Linked DNA regions of Homo sapiens: region 1 is linked to region 2. Evidence: fine-mapped expression QTL. A gene starts in region 2. The other region holds a variant in brackets. All regions are shown on one strand. Distances are between the middles of the regions. Region 1 overlaps LETM2 (leucine zipper and EF-hand containing transmembrane protein 2). Region 2 holds the start of BAG4 (BAG cochaperone 4).

The links. PIP is the estimated chance that this variant, and not a neighbour inherited with it, causes the effect.
Region 1: its variant is the best candidate, but not a certain one, in a credible set for the expression of BAG4 in atrial appendage (GTEx, PIP 0.81).

Annotation. Positions count from the first base shown.
Region 1 is chr8:38,390,364-38,393,270 of GRCh38, reverse strand. LETM2 (leucine zipper and EF-hand containing transmembrane protein 2) reads right to left here. Exons shown (of 11, transcript NM_001286819.2): 3 at 276-729. Among named protein-coding and RNA genes, the nearest start is that of LETM2, 5.3 kb to the right of the region's middle. RefSeq lists an enhancer at 2,008-2,509. The variant C/T (reference allele first, on the strand shown) is at 1,588.
Region 2 is chr8:38,175,336-38,178,242 of GRCh38, reverse strand. BAG4 (BAG cochaperone 4) reads right to left here and starts at 1,388. Exons shown (of 5, transcript NM_004874.4): 1 at 1,104-1,388. The coding sequence starts at 1,373. It overlaps LSM1 (LSM1 homolog, mRNA degradation associated), which reads left to right and starts at 1,750. Exons shown (of 4, transcript NM_014462.3): 1 at 1,750-1,968. The coding sequence starts at 1,923. RefSeq lists enhancers at 446-785, 1,696-1,845, 1,067-1,924, 2,256-2,345, 1,925-2,782.

The sequences.
Region 1 (2,907 bases), 220 kb before region 2:
TTATAACTATTCTACAAACATGCACATGTACCCCTGAACCTAAAATAAAAGTTTTTTTTAAAAACCGTTATACAGGAAAATATATAACAAATTTCAGAATACTGACTAAAGTTGTACAGTAAGTCGGTTGCAGACAAGAAACTGGTTCTCACCAGCAGTTATTATTCCTACTCTGGGATTTTTAAGATGAAGTTTACGTTGAATTTAAATAGTTGAGTTCCCAAATAGTTCATTTTAATTTCACATTTTCTTTCTCAAATATGATTCTTGCCTACCCTTCGTCTCTCTCGTCTGGTCAGGACCTGTCCATGCAACAGCCTCCAAACCATTCTGGCAGCAACTTTGGCGTCAATCCAAAGTAAGTAGAATCCATTGTAATAATATTTTAGTTCATCCATGATTTTTTGTCTATAAGATTGTTTGCCTTCTTTAATCTCCATGCCAGTTTCTTTTGTGGCCTGAGGGCTTGTCACCTGTGGATGTTTTGTGGCTTGCTCCAGCTGAGGTTTGCCAGGAACTTCTTGCAGCCAGCAAGTGGATGTGTGTAGCTTTTGTATTAGTCTAGTTCCTGGGTGAAGTACTGTATTGCCTGGCTGACTAGGATCCGAGTACTTCTTGCTCTCATAGTTCTTCATACATGTCTTATTTAAATGGGAATCTGGCAAGTGAAGAAATGCACATGATGGGGAATAAGAAGAGCAGGTAGGATGGACAAAATGGCTAGGGAATCTGGAATAAAAAGCAACATCCTCTGAGTTAAGTACATACTATTACAAAGCACACACTATCATAAAGCACATATTATTAAAGAAATAGATAGTACATCTGGTCAAAATAAAACAGCTTTTTTTTTTTTCCACTCCCATTGCCCAGGCTGGAGTGCAGTGGTGCAATCTCGGCTCACTACAACCTACGCCATCTGGGCTCAAGCGATTCTCCTGCCTCAGCCTTCTAAGTAGCTAGGATTACAGGCACAGGCCACCATGCCCAGCTAATTTTTGTATTTTTAGTAGAGTCGGGTTTTCACCACATTGGCCAGGATAATCTCAAACTCCTGACCTCAAGTGATCCGCCTGCCTTGGCCTCCCTAAGTACTGGAATTACAGGCATGAGCCACCATGCCTGGCCAAGGAATATTGTTTCAAAGAAACATTTGATGGTCACTGTAGGAATTAACCAGTCACATAATACCGCCTTGCCTATGCAGTGTCTTTGAACCCCTCAAATGAGAGGAACTTACAGCTGAAATACCCTTCACCTAAATTCTTCTAGAACATTGGGCTGGCCGCGATGGCTCATGCCTGTAATCCCAGCGCTTTGCGAGGCCAAGGCAGGTGGATCACCTGAGGTCAGGAGTTCAAGACCAGCCTGGCCAACATGGTGAAACCCTGTCTCTACTAAAAATACAAAAATTAGCCGGGTGTGGTGTCATGCACCTGTAATCCCAGCTACTAGGGAGGCTGAGGCAGGAGAATCGCTTGAACCCAGGAGGTGAAGGTTGCAGTGAGACAAGACTATGCCACTGCACTCCAGCCTGGGCAACAGAACAAGACACCGTCTCAAAAAAAAAAAAATTAGAATTGGGCA[C/T]CCCAATTAAGGGTCTCTAGCTTCTGGTATTGCAACAGCCCACAGTTTGCAGTTAAACTACCATATCAGATTGTTTGAGAATAAAAATATGGGCCAGGCACAGTGGCTCACGCCTGTAATCCCAGCACTTTGGGAGGCCAAGGCGGGCGGATCAAGAGATCGAGACCATCCTGGCCAACTTGGTGAAACCCCATCTCTACTAAAAATACAAAAATTAGCTGGGCGTGGTGGCACGTGCCTGTAGTCCCAGCTACTCGGGAGGCTGAGGCAGGAGAATCACTTGAACCTGGGAGGCAGAGGTTGCAATAAGCCAAGATCGTGCCACTGCACTCCAGCCTGGCGACAAAGCGAGACTTGTCTAAAAAAAAAAAAAAAAAAAAAAACTAAAATAAAATAAAATAAAAATATGACAGATACTGGCAAAGAAAGTTACTGGCAAAGAGATGTCTTTTTCCATTCTTTCAGTTTTTTGGTTTTTTTTTTTGTTTTTTTTTTTTTTTTTGAGACAGGAGGAGTCTCACTCTGTCACCCAGGCTGGAGTACAGTGGCATGATCACGGCTCACTGCAGCCATGACCTCCTAGGCTCATGTGGAAGAAATCAACACAAGTTCTCAACAGCTATAGAATTAAATGCATATGCAATATTCATTATTTTAGAACATGCCAAAAACAAAACCAAAAACAAAAGCAAAAAAAATTTGTCGCCAGGCACGCTGGCTCATGCCTGTAATCCCAGCACTTTGGGAGGCTGAGGAAGGTGGATCACGAGGTCAAGAGATCTAGACCATCCTGGCCAACATGGTGAAACCCCATCTCTACCAAAAATACAAAAATTAGCTGGGCGTGGTGGAGTGCACCTGTAGTCCCAGCTACTCGGGAGGCTGAGGCAGGAGAATTGCTTGAACCCAGGAGGCGGAGGCTGCAGTGAGCCAAGATTGCGCCACTGCACTCCAGCCTGGTGACAGAGCAAGACTCTGTCTCACAAAAAAACAAAAAACAAAAAACAAAAAAACAAAAATAAAAAATTTGTCTTGGTTCTTTTTTTTTTTTTTTTTTTTTCTGAGACAGAGTCTCACTCTGTTGCCCAGGCTGGAGTGCAGTGACGCGATCTTGACTCACTGCAACCTCCGCCTCCTGGGTTCAAATGATTCTCCTGCCTCAGCCTCCCGAGTATCTGGGAATACAGGTGCCTGCCACCACACCTGGCTAATCTTTATATTTTTAGTAGAGACGGGGTTTCACCATGTTGGCAAGACTGGTCTCGAACTGCTGACCTCAAGTGATCTGCCTGCCTTGGCCTCCCAAAGTGCTGGGATTAC
Region 2 (2,907 bases):
CGGAGGTTGCAGTGAGCCGAGATGGCACCACTGCACTCCAGCCTGGGCAACAGAGCGAGACTCCAACTCAAAAAAAAAAAAAACAAAAAAAACGACATTTCTACTTTTTGGCGATTATGAATAATGATGCTATGAACATGGGCGGACAAGCTTTATGTGAACATACGTTATCAGTTTTCTTGGGTATATAGCCAGGAGTGGGCTTGCTGGGTCATAGACTAATTCTAATGCTTAATGTTTTGAGGAACTACCAAACTATTTTCCACCATTTTACATCCCCACCAGCAATGTACGAGAATTTCACTATTACATTTTCAACAAATGAGGATAATTCTTGAACGAACAGAGAGGTATGCTGCCACCGCAGAACGACAACCCACTACCCAGAAGACTGTATTAACAAAGCAGAAGTATATGTCCGGCAGGAAAACGGAGAATAAAATGTTGCAGGTCCAAGTGTATTAGGCAAGTGAGTTAACCTCGCAGAGCCCCGGTTCCTTATTCGAAAACAAAAAAAAGGGCCGCTGTAATGCCATTTTACCTTGCAGTCGCCGTGAAAATTAAATCAGTCAATCCGCGTAAAGGTACTTTACAACACTGATTATTCATGATTCGATCTCAGGCAAGGCATTAGGGGCAAACAGCTAAATGCCCAGATCCCTCCTCCTCGCAAAGGTTCCTTCCCCTCGGGAGGGTCCCTGAGCGGCATCGGGGGCTGCAGCCACTTCCCTTCCCCGGGAGAGCCGGCCTGCCAGCCACGCAGGATAAATTGCTAGAGCTGGAGCAGTAGATCCGTGCCACCCCTACCCAGCACCGCTCCCAGGAGAGAGATCTGCAGCCTGCTGCTAAGCTTAGTAAGTCCGCGCAGGATCTTTCTTTTTTAAATGGTAATAAACATATTTTTTGGGGTCGAAGCAGAAAAGGAGGGGCAAAGGGAACACAAGCATGTCCCCCCAACCTCTGATCTTAGTCTCGGTCTCTCCAACACCCCCCGCAACACACCCTCCTCCACATAAGGAAAACAAGTATGAAACCCGATCCTTTACGAACCCCAGCCCCAAGGGCCCTCACCTCCCCGCAAGGACAGAGGGTGCAAAGCTTACCTGGTGGCTTCCTCCGGCTCGACCAGGCTCTGGCCAGGCGCCTCCCGAGGGATAGTAGCCATCGCCTCCTCCGCCTTCTCCCAGCCAGGTGGTCTCCGCCGGGCCGCCCCCGCGCACCCGCCAGGAAATGGGAGGCTGGGGAGGTTCAGGGCGAAGAGGATATAAGGGTGGAGGTGGGTGTACCGGCACATCTCCACCCCCAGGCCCGTAGTAGCGGCCGTAGGACGGACCGTCACTGGGGCCGTAGCCCGAGCGCCTCAGGGCCGACATGGGATCCGCTGCCCTGAAGCGCTTCCCGCCCCGCTCCCCACGGCCGACCCATCGCGCAGGCGCCCGCGGGCGATTGCGAATGGAGAGCAGCGAAGGGGGTCGGACGACGCCAGCCAATCCCAGGCCCGGGCCCGCCCCTTCTGCTGCCGAACCCCGAAAGCTGAGGGACGGAGGTCAGTGACTCTGGGGTCTCGGGAACCCGGAGACGAAGGAAGACACCGTGTTCCTTAAGAGGGAGTATACGTTTCCTCGCCATTTATCCAATGGAGTTTCCTCTTACCTACTTAACAGGAACAGGGAAAGGGTGTCCCCCAACGGTACGGCTGCCCCGCCTCTTCCTGGGGGCCCACACGTGTTACAGGAAGTGGGTAAGGGTAATATGGAGGAGCTTCCGGCAGCCCCCGGCGGCTGAAAGCCGGGGCAGAAGTGCTGGTCTCGGTCGGGATTCCGGGCTTGGTCCCACCGAGGCGGCGACTGCGGTAGGAGGGAAGAGGTTTTGGACGCGCTGGCCTCCCGCCGCTGTGCATTGCAGCATTATTTCAGTTCAAAATGAACTATATGCCTGGCACCGCCAGCCTCATCGAGGACATTGACAGTGAGTAGTTTATCTCCTCCCGGTGGAGCCCGGGGTTAGACCCTTCCTCCCGGGCGGGCGCCTCTTCCGAAGAAGCTTGTAGAATGAGTCCCGGGCGGGGCCGGTGTGTTCTGAGCTCAATCCGGGCGTTCCGCGTCGATGTCCTCCACAGCTGCGGTACACACCGCTTGCCCACCCAGTAGCCTGCTGCTACTTCTGCCCCTCGCAGCCTCCGCCAGCCCTCTAGCTGGTGAGCCCCAAGCGATGGAACTCATTCTTGCTTCCGTGGATCGCGGCAGCAGAGGCCCGAACACGAAAGAAGCCCGGGGAGGGGGGGGGCTTCTCCCCCGTCCACTCCTGCCTGCAGTATTTCGAAGTATCAGCGTGTTACCGGTGGATGGATCGGAATACCTAGAGAGAGGATTCATTAAAAAGCGAAAATATTAAGACAGCGGCAGTTGGACTTAATTGGCAGTAAATGTAGGCGCTCTACGGTGTGGCCATTTGCTAGCTTATTTTACTGTGAGGGTCATTAGCACCTTCAGGTTATTGTAGTAGAGACCACTGTTAGACATGGTATTGACTTTTCTGGAAAGACCAAATCACTTGCAACCTTTTTTTTTTTTTTAAGACAATTTACTTTTGCTTTTACTAAGAAGACCTCCCTTATTCCTGGTTTTTGTCCGGAAGAGGAGCTCAGTCCTATACAAAAGCGAAAAGAACCGTCTGCAGTTGTTCTGGCTTTCCTTTTTTCTAAATTCCGTCTGTGCATTATTCCTCAAGCAACATTTTTTATTGTTTTAATCATGTGATCTTTCTCATTAACTTGTTTCAAGATGATTTACACATAGTTTTAAATAAGTTGCAATCGTCTCAGTTACTCTGTGAATACGCAATTTAGAATCTATGGTTAAAATTTCATTTTACGGGCCTGGCGCGGTGGCTCACGCCTGTAATCCC